2 linked regions of the Homo sapiens genome follow. The protein of the gene in region 1 interacts with the protein of each later gene in a biochemical or structural test. Each region holds a gene or a part of one and is shown on either strand. Other genes may lie near its edges. The genes, in order: NRG2 and ERBB4.

Region 1 (11,712 bases):
AATATAAATATAATTTTATAAAGAAAAAACTAATTGATATTAGGAAATAAAATTAAAATGCCCTAGATAAAACAGGATAGTAAAGGGGAAGCACACTTGCTTTGATTAGGGGCCGAGAGGAAGTTAGTCACCTAGATTGTTAATATACCACCATCCCTAGCTCTCAAACTGTTTGTTAATTCAAACCGACGGTTGTTTTATTTTTGTTTAAATTTGGGGGTGGGCAAGTAGTAATCTACCTTCCAAAAGAAAAAAAAATAAGAGGGTCTTTTCCAGCAAGATCTTTATTCTCCAGTGCTCAAATCCCATTAACACTAATCAGCACAATGATTAAGCACATTGTGGTTAAGTACTCTAGTTGATAATGATTCTTTCGGAAGAAAGGTTCCCATAGCGACAGGTAAAGGCTATCATCAAACTCAGCTTTTCAGCACAGGACTTGATGTCACAGGTCAGAGAGTTAAGATTGTTTTAGTTTTAATCTGGAGGCTTTCTTTAACTTCACTTGACTTTATCCATTCAAATGACACTGATGGAGAGTCCTTCTATAAACCAGGCAAAGTACGAAACGCGGCAGGGCAGGAGAACTAGGAGAAAGAAGACCTCAAAGATAAGCTATTGTTCCTACCCCAAGAATGCAGTCTGCCGAGGAAAGCAGCCACTACAAGAAATAATGACATTAGGGTGGTAATTCAATCGTTAAATCTACAACCATGCCTTGTCCTCATCACTAGGACTGGTCAGTTTCTAATCTAGTTTCACTTTCCCATCTTCAAGCTGCAGCACAGCTGGGTTTCCAGCTGGCTGGGGAAGAAAAGATTCTTTAAATAAACAGCATTTAAAAAATATGTAGTCGCTTTTGCTATACTGAATTTTGTGAACCACCTTTCTCTAATATGTGAATCTGGGTGCCACATTAATTTAAAACTATCCTAAAGAATGTAAAAATCCTTAGGAATACACCTTTCCTTGTAGCAACAAAGTACACTATACACTGGAAAACTGCTAATCAGGAAATCCCAAAGAAAGAAATGATCTTCATTTTTTATGCTATTTACTGCATCTATTCAATAAGGAAACTGCTTAAAAACATGAATATAAGAAAACAACAAGATAGGGTGTAATTATACCAAAATATATGCAACCATCTTTTAAAATGCAGGACTATTTGCAGAACATGATGTTTTTATAACATTGTACAGAATTGCTAATCCCTGCAAGGCCTTTCTAACTCTTTTTCCTCGCCTTTCCACAGAAGGCACAGAAAACACCTCCCTCCATACAATGCAATCTTCTAAGAAATGCAAAGATTTTACTCAACTCTATCACCAGATGTACTCTTTCTGGATAAATGATACACATTAGATATGTAAAAATATCACTCTGGCAGGTCTTGCTCTTCCAGAAAGACCCCTGTCTACCTTTCCCCACCTTAGATCACAGACTTCAAGTCAACATTTCATGGTGGAAACGAGCCATTTATGAGGACTGATAAGAAGAGGTCCAGTGTGACCTCCTGCATTGATGCTCCTGAGGCCAATTTTTAAACACAATATTATCCCTCCATATTTTGCCCCCCTCCAAAAAAAAACCCACGGGCTTTCTAGGTGACTTCCCAGAGAACCACACCTCTCAGAACCTACACACACTCAGACCTGAAACTAGCTAAACAAAGCAACAATGCAACCTCAGTTGCTCAATGTAACGGCCATGACGACAGTTTCCAAGTGCCAGTTTCCCTATTTTGCAATGGGCAAATCTGCTCCAAGGAGAAAATGTTCCCAATGACCCTGTGGCCCAGAGGGCTTTCTTTAGAATAGAAAACAGAAAATGAATTTGTTAGTTATTTCCTGCTAAGCACAAGGACAGTGTTGTGGTTAGTTAGGATGATTTTGTTTCCTTATTTAATATAGCATTACCAGTACATGTTTTCTTTAACCACATAGTAGAAAACAAGAAAATGCAGTTTATGCTCTTCTGTTATATTATCACCAATTCCACAAGTCTCACAAATATGTCCTTTAATTTCTAATCCCCTTATATAAGGCTCCCCAAAATGGTACCTATTTATATACTTCCCTTTGAATATCAATTCAAAGCAATTTTTTTTTGCATTCTAAAATGTTTACTGCCATACACATTCCTGATCCTTGATAATTTGTGATATGTGAGGGCCCTTCCTTTACCAGTGATTGCAGTTCTAAATGTATCTTTTTAAGAACTATACTACACATGCTATTTTGATAATATGAGATGATCATAACCTAGAAACAGACCATATTTCTGCCCCTCAAATCTTTCATGATTTCTGCATTCAACTGTTAAGCTACTGAATACCCACTAGAACAAACAATGTGTAATTGATAAGGTGTATTGTGTTGGGGGAAGGAGAAAGTAGGAGGAGGGAGACAAGGGAGCAGAGAAGCCAGTTACTCTATGGGGTTATCTGACAAAGACCATCAAGTCCTCAGCGGCCCAGACTAGGGATTATGTGGAGATGTACACTGTGCAAATGCAGGAGCAACTCACCAACAACCAAACAGAAGCTGTCCTTGGACAAGATTCAATAAATATTTTTACTATCTATTTTCCACTGTACAATACTGTTTCACAGCTCCCCAAGGCATCTCAGAGTATTTTAATACTCCCCAAGTATCAAAATACTTAATAGAATAAAAAATTAGAAATTCTTAGCTGGTCTCTACTTGTCTTTATAAAACATTTCAGAACATAAAACCAATAATAAAAAGCAGTCAACAATATTCCTAAGGATAATGTCAGAGCGATAAACTGCTGTTATCCCCCAAAGTTTTCCCCTCCTTATTAAGACATTGCCAAGATTCTTCTCATTAAAGTGATCACAGTTTAACATAGTTAGTGTCTAGATATACTCCCATCACTAAACTCCTAAAATTTGCCTCCTGAAGGGGGTGGGGGAGGAAAGCTTCCAAAAATCATAGGTATCGATCTAGAAAGATGAAGGCAGCAAAACTTACTATAAGCTGTTACACATATTTTGCTACTCAAACAAAGCCTGTCTACACTACCCAGAATCAGTTGGTAAAACTGGTAAACATACCAACTTCTATGAGAGTACAGGACATCTATCATAATTCAGCGATTACACAGTCCAGCAAGTCATACCGCATGCCAACAAATTCAGCTTTAGTTGGGACAAAACGAAACCTCAATTTGAATAAGCACGAGACAGGCTTACACCAAATACTCCAGTGTGGGACAATTTGATTTGAAATATCTTACTAAGAAGTAAGTACTGGATTCAGGGACAAGAAGAAAAAGCTCTTAGACTGACATTTCTTTGACTTTTGACATGGGAGACTTCCATTCCCAGCTGCAGAGATCTACAGATTTCAGTGTTTTGTTTCTAATCACCTGCATTCCTGTGCAGCATCCAACATCATGAAGATGAGAGATGCAGTCAAATACATCCGGCGAGTAAGACGTTAGAGCTGAACTTAAAGCATTCAGCAGAAGTTACTCTCTTTCATCATCATCACAATCAACAGACCTTGTAATTCCCCCAGAAACAGCTAAAAAAAAAAAAAAAAAAAGGTGTCTGCTTGCTAGTCTTAAGAGAAGGATGTGCTACCTGCTTAGCAAAGACAGGCAATCACGATGAAGAAAAAAACTGGAGCCACATGGAGGACGGAAAACAGTAGCAGAAAAAGTCCAACTCTGCCTGCGCCAGCGGTGTGGATGAGCAGAGCAACGAGCCCAGGAGAGGAAGGAGGGGGCGGGGGCGACCATTCCCTAGGAGAACTTGTAAGCGGAGGCCTTCACAGCCTGGGAGTCTGCCCAGCTGCTCCCGCAGACCCTGCCAGCCTGGGCACGGCAGGCCCGCGGCAGCAGGGCAGGCAAGGCCTCCGAGGGTCACTCCTGACTCACTGAGCCTCAGGCCAGCACCGCCAGGACCTCTCCGTTTTTCCTTCCGCTACTGGGCTATGATGGCAGCTTTCCAGCCCCACATGCCATACATCAGCCGCAGATCCCCGCTGGCACAGGCCAGCGCCTCCCTCCGCCCCCCACCCCTGGCACACTTTGAGCCTGATCCTTCTTCTCTCCAACCCCAACCCCCTCACCCACCCGTGCCAGGCGCCCTGCCCAGGGGCGGCCCCACCCCCCCAGCGCCCGGACGCTGCCAGGCCCGGGCACCTGCAGCACCTCCCCGCCCCACCCCCATTCTCCACCACCTCGCCCCTCCCCCCTTTCTCCAGCAAAGGGAGGGGGCGACTCACCGCAGTCAGTGCACAGGATCTTGCCCACCTCTTTCTTGAGATTTTTGCCGTTGGTATCGAGGGGGGCAAAGGCCGTCTTAAAGACTAAGGGCTGTTCCGTGGGCTCCAGGAAAAAGATGTAGCGCTGGTTCCTTTCGAGCGGCACACAGGAGCCCACGCTGATCACCTGCTCGCGCTGCAGCCCCCCGCTCCGGAGCGGCCACTTGTCCAGCACCTTTACCAACGCCACCCGACCCGAGGCGGGCGGCTCTCGGGTGCTGTTGGAGCTGGAGCCGCCGGCTGGGACCAGCCCCTGTACCTTGCCCTCCACCACCACGGGTGCCTTGTACGCCTGGTCCTGCACTGACTTGAGGCTGGGCGAGTAGCAGGCGAGCGACACACCGAAGAGCAGCATGGAGAAGCCGGGGGCCGGGTCGCGCCTCATGCCGCCGGCGGCTGCGGCTCGCGAACGGGCGGCGGCTCTCCGGGCTGCGGGGCTGCGGGGCTGCGGCTGTTGCTGCGGCCGCGGCTCTGGGGGCGCAGCGGGACGAGAGATGCTGCTGTTGTTGCTGCTGCTCCTGCTGCTGCTGCCGCTCTCGCTGCTGCTGCTGCTGCTGCTGCTGCTCCTCTCGCTGCTGCTGCTGCTGCTGTCGCTGTAGCTGCTGCACCGACCCTTCTCCAGTGGCGGCGGCGGCAGCGCTGAGCAGCAAACCTGCCGCATCTGGCCAGGCCATTTGGGGGGCTCCGCCGCTCAGCCGCCGCCGCCTTGGGAGGGGAAACAGAGCCCGCTGGAAAACCGGAAACAGCGTAACGTTAGCGCCTCTTAGCCCTCCACCGGCAGCCCGGGGAGGTGGCCCAGCTAGGGCAGGGGGCAGGCGGCAAGCGGGCCGCGATGCGCAGCGCGGCGCAGCGCAGCGCTCCCACCCTGTGCGCCAGGACCTGGAGGAGGATGCGGAGGATGGGACGCCCGCCCACTTGCTCTCTCGCGCCCCCTCTGCCCCCGGACCGAGTAGGGAGCGCGGCTTCTGCAGGGGAAGCTTGGGACTGCACTGCTTTAGTGCCCGCCTTCAGCCCGCAGGGGCGCGGGAGGAATCGTGCCACCCTTTGCTCCCGGGATTTATCGGCATGACAGTGGGGGTGGTGCGTGAGGAGAAGGCGAAGAAGAGATAACGGGCTCCTGGCACCATCCTATGAACGTGGTAATGGGACGCAGGGCGTGCCCCCTGCCTTTGGCCAGCAGCTGTAGGAGCCAGAGAGGTTGCCATGGCCAGGGTGGCCGGCCAGCCTCTCGCCTCTTGGGCTGTCCTCTTTCCTAGGAGGACCCTGGAGCCCAGCCCCTAAATGATACCACGTGCTCGGTCCTGCCACCGCCTGGTGAACGCTGGATATTCGACTTGAGGTGGGGGAGAATCCCAGCCCCGTCATTTTGGAAAGAGTTGGGCCACAAGGTGTCTTGTCTTAGCATTGAGGACACCCAAGCAGAGGTGGTAGCTGAGAAAGGGCCCAGTCCCCAACACTCTGGGCTTTCTTCAGCGGCCACGTGGGGATCTGGCTGAGCACTGTACAACCTCATCTTTTAAAAATCTGATCTCTAAGAAAGGTGGGGGGCTTCTTGGGAGCCAACAGAGAGCCAGAGCCTGTCAGGGCCAGAGGCTGCTCCATAAAAAAGGTTTTTTTTGTTTTGTTTTGTTTTGTTTCCAAGGCTGATGCTTGCAAGAGGCAGAAGAGTTTGCTGCACTGGAGCCAGCATCTGATTTAAAACACACACACACACACACACACACACACACAGGTCCATAATCCATTAGCCTATCAATGAGGGTCCAGGGAGTTTTCAACACCCAGCTTTTAACCTTGAAGGATGTGGAGCTCAGGAATGCCAGTGAGCTCTTGGGGAATTTTATACCGCACTGGGCTCCACAGGAAACTGGTCCAAGGATGAGTGACTTAGGCTAGGACTGCTATTCTGGAAAGGAAGTAGAGAGAGCTACACCTTTCCTCCTAGCTAAGAGACATCTTAAACTCAATACATCCAAAGCCAACATCATTATTTCTTCCACTTCACTCCAAATCCCCTATAATTATTAATGCCACTGTTTTATTCTTTTAGACTACATCAATCCATTACAATAAGTCCCTTCATCTCATCTTTTATTCTTCCTCATCCAATTAATCACCAAGGCCTTTGGGTCTCTCTTTTAAAATAATCTCCAATTTATCTACTTCCACTCCAACTCTGCTGCAAATACCTTAAGTCCAAGCCCTCATCATCTCTCACCTGGACAACTTCTAAGCCTTCTAACTGGTCTCCACTCCTTTCACCTCATCACCTATCTCCAGTCCTACCAATGCCAGAGTGATCCTTCTAAAAATAAAATGTAAGTACAATTTGGCCATGCTACTGCTCTCAGAAGTTAAGTTCAAACTCCTCAGCAAGGCTCTTCATGGGCTCCCTTTGCCTAGCCAGCTTCATATCCTGAGAGCCAACCCCCCACTCTAGCAATCCTCAGCACTTCATGCTCTTTCTTGGTGTGCTTCTGCACATGATGTCTCTTGTGTCCAGAAAGCCTCACCTCCACCTTGACCACATGGAAAACTTATTTTCCCAAGGCCCAGCTCAGCATTATACCGCATCCCCCTTCCTACATATCCACCTCTACTCCCACCAACACATACATGATGGAATTAATCCCTTCCTCCTCTGTATTGCCATGAGCTTCACACATAGTATTACTGTTGGGATACTGGCCCATACCGTATTTCAAGCAGCCATTTAATGGGTCTGCATCTCCCATCAGGCCAGGCACGTTAATGTCAGGGACTATATATATCCTATTCATCTTTGGATTCCTATTACCTCCAACACAATGCCTGGCATAAAATAAGGATTAGCAAATCTCCAGTGAAAGAAGGAGAGAAGGAAGAAAATAACTGAAAATCGGCACGCTTAAAGGCATCAAGCCAATCTTCTTGGCTCCTTCAGTGTCCCCCATTTCATTTTCATAGATCACAGACCTCATAAATCACAAAACATCACCATAAGGAAGATAGCGACATCCACTCTTTCATTTTACAATGAAAGAAAAAGTCCCAGAGGGGATAGGGGACTTACTCAACATTTCACACAGCCAGGACTGAACTCAGTCTTCTGTTCCTGAGACCAGGGTCATAGTGAAGAGCTTGTGCTCTGGAGCCCAGCAGAGCTGGGTTTTAAAGCAACTCTGTGACTTACCAACTTTGGGATGAGTCTATTTCACTCTCTAGGCCTTAGTTTCCTTATCAGTATGAAGGAGAAAATAATAGGGTCTACTTCGTAAAGCTGTTTTTTGCTCAGTATGTACTTTCAATAAATATTCAATTGAATGGCTCCTCTGTGCCAAGCACTGAGGCACTGTATGTTACTGGATGTACTGTGGTGAACCAAACTGTTCAATAGTACATGTCTGTGCTCTCAAAGCTCATACTCTGACTGGGAAGACAACAGTAAATAAGTACACAAATGGGTAACTAATTACTTGTATTGCTGAGTGTCCTGAAGGAAATAAACAGGATGAAATGCTAGAGAATAATGGAAAGGGGAGAGGATAGGTCTACTTGGATAAGGGAAGGCTTCTCTGAGGAGATAACATTTAAGCTGAGACTAGAAGGATGATGAGGATGTGGATTATGTGAGATAATATGTAAAGTGCTTAGAACAATGTCTGGTGCACAGTAAGGGCCAAAATTAAAGTTGAAGATTACTAATATTTTACTTATACTGGTGGTTCCCAATCTAAGAGCTGAGAATCTCTAAGTGGTATTTATTTTCTGTATATTAAAAATATTCACTAGGATTTTCTGTATATTAAAAAATGCGGCTGGGTGCAGTGGCTCATGCCTGTAATCTTAGCACTTTGGTAGGCTGAGTGGGGTGGATCACTTGAGGTCAGGAGTTCAAGACTAACCTGGCCAACATGGTGAAACCCCATCTTTACTACTACCAAAAAAAAAATTAGCCAGGCGTGGTGGCGCTCCCCTATAATCCCAGCTACTTGGGAGGCTGACACAGGAGAAATGCTAGAACCCAGGAGGCAGAGGTTGCAGTGAGCCTCATGACACTACACTCCAGCCTGGGCAACAGAGCACTGTCTCAAAAAAAAAAAAAAAAAAAAGGCGATACAATTTTTCAACAGCACATGTCATGAAGAATAAAAATATTATTTTCCCCTCTCTCTCTTATTTTTTTTTTTTTGAGACAGAGTTTTGGTCTTGTTGCCCATGCTGGAGTGCAATGGTGTGATCTTGGCTCACTGCAACCTCCACCTCCCGGGTTCAAGTGATTATCCTGCCTCAGCCTCCCAAGTAGCTGGGATTACAGGTGCCTGCCACCACGCCTGGCTAATTTTTTGTATTTTTAGTAGAGACGGGGTTTCTCCATGTTGGTCAGGCTGGTCTTGAACTCCCGACCTCAGGTGATCTGCCTGCCTTGGCCTCCCAAAGTGCTGGGATTATAGGTGTGAGCCATTGAGCCCGGCCTCTTTTTTTTTTTTTTTTTTTTCTTTGAGACAGAGTCTCCGTCCCCTAGGCTGGAGTGCGGTGGTGTGATCTCAGCTCACTGCAACTTCTGCCTCCCAGGTTTAAGCAATTCTCCTGCCTCAGCCTCCCGAGTAGCTGGGACTACAGGCACGCACTACCACGCCTGGCTAATTTTTGTATTTTTAGTAGAGACTGGGTTTCGCCACGTTGGCCAGAGCAGCCTCGAACTCCTGACTTCAGGTGATCTGCCTGCCTCAGCCTCCCAAAGTGCCGGGATTACAGGCGTGAGCCACGACGCCCGGACTCTCTTTTTCTTTTGAGACACGATCTGGCTCTGTTGCCCAGGCTGGAGTGCAGTGGGGCCATCATGGCTCACTGCAGCCTCGACCTCCTGGGTTCAAGTGATCCTCCTAAGTAGCTGGGACTACGGGCACATGCCACCACACCCAGCTAGTTTTCTTTTCTTTTCTTTTCTTTTCTTTATTATTACTTTTTTTTTTTTTGGTAGAGATAGGGCCTTGCCCAGACTGGTCTCCAACTCCTGGGCTCAAGCAATCCTCCTGCCTTGGCCTCCCAAAGTGCTGGGATTACAGGTGTGAACCACCACACCTGCTCCCCACCTTTTTTTTTCAACATATCCATGTTAAAGTACAACAAAATATAACAAGATATTGCTAAGTGAAAAAAAGCAAGATGAAGAAGAGTGGTAAGATGCTACCATTTTGTCTTTTTTTAAGATGAAATATGTAAATGTTTGTAGTGCAAATTTACCTTTGAAAAGATACAGCAGAAGTTGAAACAATAGGAGGCTCTGGAGAAGGGCAGTGTGTGAATGAGGGATGGGGTGAAAGAAGGATATTTTCATGGTATTTCCTTTTGTACCTCGTGAATTTTATATCAAGTTCATGTACTAGCTATTCAAAAAAATTTTAAGAGGGGATCCTCTAATTTGTTAATGTTGCTGAATTTTTATCATGTGTTTTTCTCAAAGTCTACTTAAAGTAGAACTACTATTATATAGGATTCTATAAACAGAAAGAATATTCTATATAATGGGAACTACTATTATATGGGGTAAAACTCTTTTTACCTTAAAATGGGATTCTTATGCTAAAAAGCATAGGGAATTATTTTGCTATAATTATATCCTGTTCAGATAAACTTAGAATGCCGAGGTAAATTTTGAGACTCCAGCAGATTACCAGAATTCCTGCAGCCATAGAAAGTGGAGAGTTAGGCAGAGTTTTCTAAAGGGAAGAAAGGGCCAGGTGCAGTGGCTCATGCCTGTAATCCCAACTCTTAGGGAGACAGAGGTGGGAGGGTAGCTTGACCCCAGGAGTTCAAGACCTGCCTGGACAATATAGCGAGACCCCATTCTCCACAAAAAGGAAAAAAAAAAAAAGATAAAGGGGAGGAAGGTGCCTGTCCAGATTTCCTCAAGGTGTGATGTATGTGAGGATAAGCTTCCGAAATTGGCCTCAGCCATTTAGGGTATTTGGTTTCCTAGAAGGACAGCCCAATTTTATACTGGCTTTTTCCTGAAGTTCACAGTGAATTAGTATGTATGACTTAGAAAATAAGACCTAGTATTCCAAACCTGCTAACTCTGCACTGTAATTCAATAACTGACAATAAAAATAATAATAGGCATCATCTATTAATGGCTTGTTGTTGGAAGCTTTGTGTTTATTATTTCTGTGTCTTATCTACTTTGAATTTTTCAAATTGAAAATTCATAGTGGTTTAATAACTTGCCCAAATGACAGACACAGTTGAGACTGTAATCCAAGCTTGCTCATTGCCAAAGCACTTCCTCACGCACAGCACCGTCACAGCTCTCTGTAAGAGACAGTCTTCTCTTAGCATCACTTTCTTTCTTCCTTTTTTTTTTTTTAACAGAGTCTCACTTCTTCAGTCTCGGCTCACTGCAACCTCTGCTTCCCAGGTTCAAGCAATTCTGCCTCAGCCTCCCAAGTAGCTGGGACTACAGGGGCCCACCACCACTCCTAGCTAATTTTTGTATTTTTTGTAGAAACGGGGTTCCATCATGTTGGCCAGGCTGGTTTCGAACTCCCGACCTCAAGTGATCCACCCGCCTCGTCCTCCCAAAGTGCTGGAATTACAGGCGTGGGCCACCGCGCCCAGCCAGCATCACTTTCATTGTCATCTAAGAGGTCTCTAATTTCCTCAGACTACTTCCACATATACACTATTTGAAATTCATAACACCGAAGAGCACGTGGGATAAGCATTATTTTACAAAAACATGAGGAAAATCGACAGACGGAGAATTTAAGTGACTTTCCCAAGATCACAAAGCTATGGATATCTTTTTGCCAAGATTTATCACAAACTCAAGCTCACACTTTTGAATAGAACCACATAGAGAAATGGAAGCCAGACCTGTTCACTATACCGTGGCTTACCACAAGGTTGTGAAAAAAACTGGTTCATGGTAGCAGTGGGCTGTGTCACTATATAATAATCACTAAGAACAAAAACAGAAGTAGACAGAATGGTATAGACATTCTGAATTCAAGATAGAACACCCACATGAAAAGCTTGGCTTCTTTTCTCAGATCCCTCCCACACAGGATGGGCTTCTTCCAGCTTTAGCCAGGATAGCAGGCCAGAAAGAGCCACTGAACCAGGTTACATGGCTTACTGCAGCTAGGAGAACTGGCTAGTCAAGGAGATCTGTATGGCCTTTATCTGGTCACTGAGTCTCACAAATCAAGCCAAACACTTTGCAGGGCAGTCTCGCTTCCTAAATAAAGAAATTTTGAAAACTTATTTTTTCTCCTTTTGAGATCTGTTTTCTAAATTTGGCTTCCAGAGTCACTTTCAGGTTCTGTGGTTAATTTCTTTTCCTCCAAGGATTTTCAAACAAGGGACTAAACAGAAAACAGATATTGAGAGTCAGAATGTTAGCACTGGGAAAGGTTTTAGTATCAATGTAGCC
Region 2 (9,440 bases), on another chromosome or scaffold:
AGATACAGTGCATACACAGGTTCTTAACAGAAAGCCAGCATGCGGCAAGCATCCAATCAGTGTCTACTATTATCTTAATGTTGTTGTCGTGATGGCTATAAATCCACACAAATATGATAGTTCCATACTAAGTAATAGCAGGGTGATTGTATAAATCCCTAAATACATGAACAAAGATGATATAGAAAAGATGATGCTTAAGATAACTGAATTGAGGCATTAAGTTCTGATCAGGATACTTTGTGCTATGTATCTGCCTCTTGCAATAGGAGTCAGTGGGCAGCTAATGGGATAAGTCTTTAATGCCTGGAAGCTTTGTTCTTCTGTTTCTAAAAGAGGCAGAAAACTGATTATATTATTTTTTTAGAGCTCTCTACTTGTCTTGGAAAGATAAGTAAGTAGAAACAGGTCAAATATTTTGCAAGATGGGTATTTGTCTTTTGAAAACCTACGGGTAACCTACAAGAGCAGTATTCCAATATTCATTCACATGTCTCCTGTGTACCATTTGATTTACAGTCTCCTGATTGCTATCTTGTGGTGAATTGTTCTGTTTATAGCTTCAAAATTGCTATCTGGGTGACAGTCTTCTGTTTCTAATCTTCAGATGGTTGTCTAGTGGCTTTGCTCCCCATGGCTTATCATGCAGCTTGATAACACTGTGGAGGGAAATACAATTAGCTAACTACGCACCTGCTCAGTTTATAGTTTTATGAGTCCATCTTGTAGTATGATATACATTATGGGGCTTGTGATAGAAGTTCTTGAAAATAGAGATTTTGTATGAAGTTCTGCAATATATCAATATATCTTTAAATATTTTACATCTCTTTATATGTTCTGTATATGTATATCTACTACATCTCTATATATTCTGTACATATATGTATGGCTGCATATATGTGTCTCCCCATAGGGGCTTTTTAAATTAAGCAATTGTGAATTCAGGATTTTAAGACTATAAAGCAGGAGAGAGTAGCTAGAGTCAGAATTGTGACGTTCATTTTAGCCTTGTTAGAAGCTCTTCTATACCGCTTTATATACCTCACAGCTTTTCTATAATTTCTTCCTCTCATCATCGTCATTTTAAATGAAGCTTTGACATTGGATCAGGATCAGATTCTACATTGTGAGTATTTTAGAAGTTTCCAGTGACCACTTAGCCTATAATAAACGCTAGAAAATTTACCAACTTATTTATAAATTAGGCATTTTATATGAAGTTTCTCCTCTATTAACACTAATATATGCAATAACACTGCTAGAGATAAGTGTAGTTATCTGCAATATTCTCTGATATATGTGGGGGAGAAGTGGGTGCCTTACCAAGCAGATTTCTAACACCTTGGGCAGGGCACACCATCAGTAGGCTCTCCACATGGTGGTGGTTTTGTTGTTGTTTCAATTATTTTACTTGTGATTATGTTGCACTTAATCTTTCTAGAATGAAAGAAACCTCATCCTCCATTATAGATAAGTTGCTCCCAGATAGTTTGAGGATGTGGAATAAGGTTTTTAATTGCATCACAAGAGCGGTTGTCAAAAAACTAATAAAAGACCATTGAAGGTCTTGACCTTCATCAGTGTGTCAGCTTTATGCATGCTTTCATCAGAAGGTGGTTACTCCTTATCAGAGGAAGAAAGAAAAGTGGTAACTAATTAAAGAAAGATATTTAAGTCAGAATATGAAGCTTTGAGAGTGAGTACCATCACTTACTAATGGTTGTATGATTCTAGTTTACACTTGTTATTTCAGTTTTATTTTCCTTATATGGGTGACTAGGATTATTCTAATAATACTTACCTCAAAAGGGTGCAGTAAGCCAAATGAACCAACATATGAAGAATTTTATAAAGCACTATGTAATTAGTAAGTAGTATAACTGCTATAAGCTAGCAGCATGGTGCCACTGGAAATTTCAATTGTACCTTAAAGCATTAGGAACACAAGTTGTTTCTCCTCCCTTCTCAGTTTATAGTTGTTTAAAATGCATAGTGCCCTGACATATCTTACCCTGAACACTATGAAATCACAATGATTTCAGATGAAAGGGCCATAATATATAAGGGAGGGTATGTGTGCAGGTCCATGCAAATAGCAGGTGTTATTAACAAGATCTTTGAAGCTCCACAATTGAACAGGTTTAAGAAAATTTACTCCAATATATTAGGCTGAAAATATATTTTTTGTCCACTGACTCAGTCATCATTCTATACAGTCAAATAACCACAGTAGTTTCAAAGAATAACAGAATCTCTAATCAGAAGTTATTGGAATTTTGAAATTCTTACACTTTGGAGGCATGGAGTAATCAATGATGTTTAAAATCAAAAAGTTATATAATAAGAAAATGTTGAGAGAGGATCTTGTTCATGTCACCAATGTCTCTGAAGTCACTCTCACACTGTTATGTGGGCTTGTCATAAGTCACTAGTCAGCTGATTGACTATTTAAGGTCTTATTCTCCCTCCCCCACCTCAAGGACAGTAGTAACATCTGATATTCTTTATAGCCAAGGATTGCCAGGATCCATTTTATAAACTGCAATGAGGGCAGAAAGAAAAAAAGTATATAAAAATATTAATGTCGTTTGGATGCAACCTACAAAATATTTTATATATTTTTTTATTCTCAGAGAAACAAACCAACCAGAGTTAATTAAGCATAGCATGCACAGATGAGTAAGTCTGTACACATCAATGGGCATATGCAGTGGATGGTAAAAACATATGGAACATATCACATCCCAAACACCAAAGAGTTCTGAGGAATAACTAATGAGCTGCATAAATATGGGCAAAATAAGCCCATTTTTATATCTTCACATTATTAAACCTAGAACAAATCTTCCTCTCTGCTAGTTGGCTTATCTAATAACAAATTTCTGACACAAAAGAGAACGTTTGTTTCATATTTTATTGAATTTCATTTATATTAAATTAAAAATATATTTCTGACAGATTCATGTAACAAAAAGGCAGAACAGTTTTCAAATTGTTCAGCTGGGATGATCAGTATGGAATGAGGCAAAGCAGTTCGCATTCTATAATTGCCTTGTACAGGTACAATTCTTTCCCAAGAGCCAAAAGAGGATCCTTGAGAACTAACGGAAAAGCCTAATTACATAAATGTAAAATACTGTTTCTCCCTCATTCTCAAATAACAACAGGAATGAGGGAAAGGAAGGAGGATGGGTAAAAGGTTGGAGGAGAAGAAAGAATAAGAGAAAGTATACTAAAAATATGCCTAACATTAAAAAAGTTAGTATGTGTTAGGTGCATGATCCTTCATCAATAACATGGAAAAAAATCAAAATAACATTACACCACACACAATTGGCATATCCTATTGTGTAAGCGAGTGCAGAGGTTGAACACATCACAATAGTGCTGAACACAGAATCACAAGTAATGTCAAAATGATAACTTCCAACCAAAAAAGAAACAATCACAGGCCAATTACTTATATACAAATCAACCCTAAAGACAATTATGTTCCAAATAAAGATGTCCACAAAAGAAAATCAAAGCAACATTATACTTATTTACAAATGCAACTAGCCATGTCTTTAACAAGCTATAAAAATACTATTCACATTTTCAAACATACAGTAGTATTTTTTGTTTGTTTATTTCAAAAAGGCAGCTAACTTTGAATGCAGGGATTTAAATAAAACATTGATGGCTTACCAGCAAGGTATTTTTGCACCCCAATCCTTTGAAGATACTTCACAAGAGAGAGGGCTTGTTTTCTGCTTACAAGTTAAGAAAATAAGGAAGTGAGTACAAATGTATACACCTTAAGCCTCTGCCTTTTCAGTAAAGTGACTCCCTCTCTCACCCAAACTGATGTCAGTAAATTACTTTGATGCATGTATAAGATGAATGTTTGAGAGTAGATTTAAGATGACTTTTTTTGTGCTATGAATTGTCTTCCACATTGATCTCATTTTCATTTGATCTTCTTGTAATGGTGCTCAAGAAAGAGATGAACTAGTCATACACCATGGGAAAATGCGGTTTCAGCATGCAGCCACGCAATCCCTGGTGCTCTCAACATGAGAAGGAGACACACCAGCCAGGGAGACAGGCATTCAAAGTTAGCTGCCCTCACACAGCTGCTCCGTTTAATAATCGACCCATTTAACAGCAGTACCAGTTTATGCTACATATTTCAAAGTACCTTACTTTAAAAGAACACCTTACATATCTACATTTAGAAAATAACTTTCGTAGTTGATTACTGGAGTAATCCCAAAAGGGTTCTTGGAGTGCTATGGTTGTAGTCCCCTCACTCCCCCCTCCCAGCCCCTGAGAGATCCAGAAATATACAGGAAAATGACTCTCACATTAAGGGAAAAGGACAACCCCCAATTAACTAAAAAATCTGGAAATGACATTTGAAAACCAGATTCGTGTCAATATACAGGAGGTATGATTTGCTTTCCTTCACAAAGGCTATAGGCCTGGGGGAAATATCTACGCATTGGGGATAAAAATAGCAGTAAAGGCAAAGTGGTTTGGACAAGTTAGACTATTGCCTACAGGTATGAATCTTTGTTTTCCTATATTTGTATATTTGCACAAATATAACCACTTCTCATGATATAGGGAAAGCTCACTAGAGCATGAAAAGAAAAACGTCCATAAAGAGCAAAAGTAGGTAAAGGATGGCATTCTATTAAACAACATGGATTTTCATTAACATGAACTGTCCTCATTATGTATTTGTTAGATGGATGAATGATCCAAAAAAGAATTGCAGGTGGTTATCAAAGCTGAATAGCCTTTACCTTTATGATAATAAGACTCCTCATTTGGGAGAAAAAAATTTACAGCAGCTACAAAATATTTACGATTAGGAACCAAATAAGATGAATAAAGCAAATAAGTTAATTTACTGGCAAAAATAACTTCTTGGTTATATGTACAGCTTTTATGTAAAGATTAAATCGAAGTTCTACCAAGTGTATGTGGACATATGTGAGTTTCAAGATTCATCACAGGGCTAACTCGTCTCAAATTCCTATAGGGAAGGACACAGAGAATTGATCTTCATGGGAAACCATAATTTTAATAGCTTAAATATTCTCTATGCGGTAGTTTGATAGTTCACTTAAACAGTGTCCAAATTGCTAGAATCTCTTATGAAAAAATCAGGCATTCGAGGGCAAAGATGAAGTCAGTGTTTCACAAAGTGGGGTGTAGGATCTCAGAGATCCACTATGGCTTAAGAAAGGAACAGGACAGCATCGGGGGACTACTTTGAACCAGGGTGGTAGAAAGGGAAGAGAGCAGTGCCAGTTGTGTCAATGGGCAAAAAAGGGAAGGATTCTATTTTCCTCTAAAGGTCAGAGAGAAATACATTTTTCTTTGATTCCTAACAAGGTAATCACTTACTTGCAAAGCTGACTGTCAAAGAGTATTTTCCAGAGGAAGCATGTGAATACCCCCCGTGAAATTGGGGCTTAGAGTCATTTTAGCTTGTGACTATAGAAGCATTTACTTCTGCCCAAAATGTCACCTGGCCAGGAATTAGGTGAGGCAGGGGCCTGCAAAAGTGACAGATCCTACATTTTTGGACCTCTACAAAATCAGTGAGACTTGAACCGAGTATCTGAAATTTCTATTATTTTAGAGAGACTTTTAATGAAAAGAAAAAAGCAGCTCACACTGCTAAAAGATATTTGCCCACACAAACACAAGGGCCCCTGGCCCGACACAATGCCCACAACAGCTTCTTGTTTCCAACTGCAGAGAGAACTCAGATCTCTGGGATCAGAAAAATTTTATTAATTCTACCCAGAAGTATAAAAACTGGCCCCATTGTAATATCAGTAATAATGAGGTCTCCACTGATAATGATCTTTTAAAATTATGCCTGATCTCATCTGTATAATATTTGTTCTTAAGCAAATAGCAACCAGGCGATACCAATCTGCATTTATATGTTTACATGGGGCAAGGCTGTCCTTCAAACTGATACACACCGAAGTCCATGTACACAAACAGAGGCACAGTAAGATCCTCTGCCCACAGTATATACAGTAGAAGTTAATTTATCTGTTTCTTTTTTTTTTTTTAACAACTAGAAGCTGATGTTGTAGGATCAGCTCTAGGATCCTCTGCCCACAGTATACAGTAGAAGTTAATTTATCTGGTTTTTTTAACAACTAGAAGCTGATGCACATGGATTTCTCATTTGCCCTATAACAATCATCATTCTAATAACTAAAGTCCAAAAGAATGGCAATGCAATAGTTTGAAACGCTTGGTTTAGCATTTATTTATCAGAAAAATTGTGATTCTTTGTTGTCATTTTTGGAGGCAAGAGGGCATAGTGAGAAAAGAAAGGACATATCACCAATTAACTGTATTTTGTTTGTTTGCTAGCTAAATGACACCACTCCTTTTTTTTTTTGTCTCTGCATAAGGTAATAGAACATTTACATTTTCTTTACTTCATCTTGAAGACCCTTACTTAGTCATATGTAACATGTTTGCCTATTAAATTCTGCAAGGTGGTGTTTATTTAAAAAAATAAATAAATACAATTTTCTTTACATTTAAAAAGTGATAAAGGAATAAGAGAATGAGAAAAAATTGTTCATTGTAATGCTTTAAAGCAAGTTTTCCCAAGTGGAACCATATATGCCTACTTTCAGCTAAACCCAACAAACAACAATTTTAAATGGCAAACTTATCTTTTTACTATGCAAAATCCATCCTACATTTTTATATCCTGCATTTAACTTTGTTACATTATACTTGTGGTTAGTTTTCTAGTTTGATTTATTTAATAATATTAAAATCATTTAACATCTGATAACCTAACTAAATCTACATCTTATAGCATTATCGTGGTTCTGTCCAGTTATATACATGCTTTCATGATCACCTTTTCTATTACCTTATGAACTACATATACTAGTTAAATTATCAACAATTACAGATGGATGAATAATTCCAGTTTTGAAATAAAGGTTAGAGAGCTCTAGAAAAACTTGTATTTACATCCTTCCCTGTCAGGCTTAAACAATTTTAATTTTCTTTTCATTTTTGATACTTCAAGAAGCACATTAATAGTCCTTCCAACTTCATCTAGTAGCAGAGCCTCACACAGTCCTTTTCTTGATTTTTCCTTAGCATTGTAAGTATGCACAATCTTCATGCCATGTCTTTCCTTTAGAAGGTATTAGCTCACACACTATAACACTTAAACACTATTCCTTCTCTTAAATTAGATATTCAGTCCTTCTCCCTAATCTACAAAAAAGAATCACTTGATTTTAGTTTGTGTGTTTTAATAGAAATTTGAGTTTTGCGTTGTTTTTCATGCTATTTTAAGAATGTTACTGGAGAAAGGATTCTCATCCTAAGCTGTGCTACTAATACTATGCAGAAAACCAGGAGCTGCTTGGTAGTCTAACACCTTTTGTGGTGCAGATGCTTTGTGGTTCTGGATCTATCCTAGATCAGAGGCCATCTTTCCTCACCTGTTTACCACTTTCTTTAGGCAATCATTTAACTGCAAAATTTTTCCATACCTGCCCAAAATAGGTATAATCTACAAAGTTGGGTGATTTAAAAAATATACTCCGTGTAATTTTAATACTAATTTGTCTCAGATTTACATAATTGATTCTGCAAATTTCAATTGCTACAATTGGCCTCTGGAATCTGATATCCCCCCAAGCACTTTGAAGACTTTAACTGACATTTTAAAATTCTACCCTACTGGACTAAATAAGTTATTCTCTGGAAGGAATGAAACTTTTTTTCTCCCTCTTATACATGCTGAAATATGTTTTCCCAGGGGGGACAAAAATAAAACAAAAAACACTCAAACAACTGAAGTCAATTATATACTACAGAAATCATTCAAAAGAATTATAAAGTGGTGCTATTATAAAGCATTTGGGTCATTTTGGATTATTCCTACATGCATCTCTAGGTATTACCCAACATGTAGAAGTCTTGTGTTCTTAGGAGGAAAGAGACATTCACTAAATACATTTCTGTTACCTTAACAGTTAAAAGTTTGTTTTAACTATTCATTTTTTCCTTCTCCAAAATGAGTGATTCTGCTTTCTATAGCCCAGTAGAAACCATATGCATATTGTAAATCAGAAAAAAAAAATCAAGGTATAGTATCCAAAAAGAGGGCTGTGATGACTCGATGCAGATTTATTTAGAAAGGGAGGCTTATATTCAATTTTTCATAAGTACTGATATGAGATCCCTTTTCCTAGAGACTTCTCTGAATGGATAGGAGAGCCCTGAGCTATTAGATTGTGGCCCCTGAATCACTCTGTGTCTTTACCCCTGAAAAGTTTGAGGGTGAACTTCACTAGAAGGAATCTCACAAACCCTTCTCCTGCTCTACCATACTTTTTCAGCTCGCCTCACTTCTTATAGCTTAGAAAAAAACCAACTCCAATGTCTCCAATATTCTTGGCCAAGGACCACCATCTGCTTTTGGTTTAATGGTGAAGTTAGACTCTAGATAGGCTAATTAGTCAGTGATGCAATATTCTCCTAGACCAGTTTATGTTTGAATAATATTATTGAAATTATCCTGTTTGTCAACATCAACAATTTGAAGGATGTTTAACTTATATCCCAAATGAGTTTAAAGGAGATATCTTACAGTACAACTGATTATATGACAGCTATTCACAAAAGAGACTATGCAATCTGATTGTTGGAACGCATAGAAAAATTAAAATGTCATTTTAATTAAATCTCCTAGATCATAGAATTTTGAAGTTGAGGATGATATTCCATTTATCTGAGTGTTCCCCACAAAACATGGTGCTTTTAGTAGACACAGTTAGATAAAGGAGGTTTGGATGGATGGATGGATGGATTTACTTGTTCAGAATAGGAAGAAACACAAATTTCTTTGGATTTTTTTCTCTAAACTTTCTCTGCCTTAATAGATATTTTTACTCTAATTAATTAATCTTATACTATTGATTCTAATTTGGTCCCAATATTTTAACATTAGAAATATTTTTTAAAAATCTAAATGACTTGGGGTAGAATTTTCAGAAAAGGGCGACTTATATCTAAGTTTCCTAATTATTGATGTGAGGCCCCCTTTACTTGGAGACTCATCTCTGTCATTTGTTCTCATCCTTCATCTCATCAGGTATTCTTTCAAAATGATACATAATAATGATGGTTCTAGTACTGGATGCAGTATATGAAGAAAGGGAATTATATAAAGTATCAAAAGATTAGTGTGTTGGATAATAAAATAATTGCATGAGAAGATGTTTCACATTTATTTACAACTTTTGACCCAAGGACCTATCCCTAAGCTTTGAATGTTTGTGTTTTTCTTTTTATTATACCAATTTATGTGCAAAGAGTTACCTTCTACTTCATATAAATAGTCTCATACTAGAAATTCCATGGAATTCAAGCCAATCCTT

What was found.
Region 2: the proteins of NRG2 (region 1) and ERBB4 form a complex in vitro, tested with the Homo sapiens proteins (2 studies listed by BioGRID).

The regions. Positions count from the first base shown.
Region 1 is NC_000005.10:140,038,114-140,049,825, forward strand, and holds the start of NRG2 (pro-neuregulin-2, membrane-bound isoform), read right to left. Parts: upstream 5,187-11,712; 5' UTR 4,957-5,186; coding exon 4,257-4,956; intron 1-4,256. UniProt on the Homo sapiens protein: Direct ligand for ERBB3 and ERBB4 tyrosine kinase receptors. Concomitantly recruits ERBB1 and ERBB2 coreceptors, resulting in ligand-stimulated tyrosine phosphorylation and activation of the ERBB receptors.
Region 2 is NC_000002.12:211,372,818-211,382,257, forward strand, and holds the end of ERBB4 (receptor tyrosine-protein kinase erbB-4 isoform JM-a/CYT-1 precursor), read right to left. Parts: 3' UTR 2,900-9,440; downstream 1-2,899. UniProt on the Homo sapiens protein: Tyrosine-protein kinase that plays an essential role as cell surface receptor for neuregulins and EGF family members and regulates development of the heart, the central nervous system and the mammary gland, gene transcription, cell proliferation, differentiation, migration and apoptosis.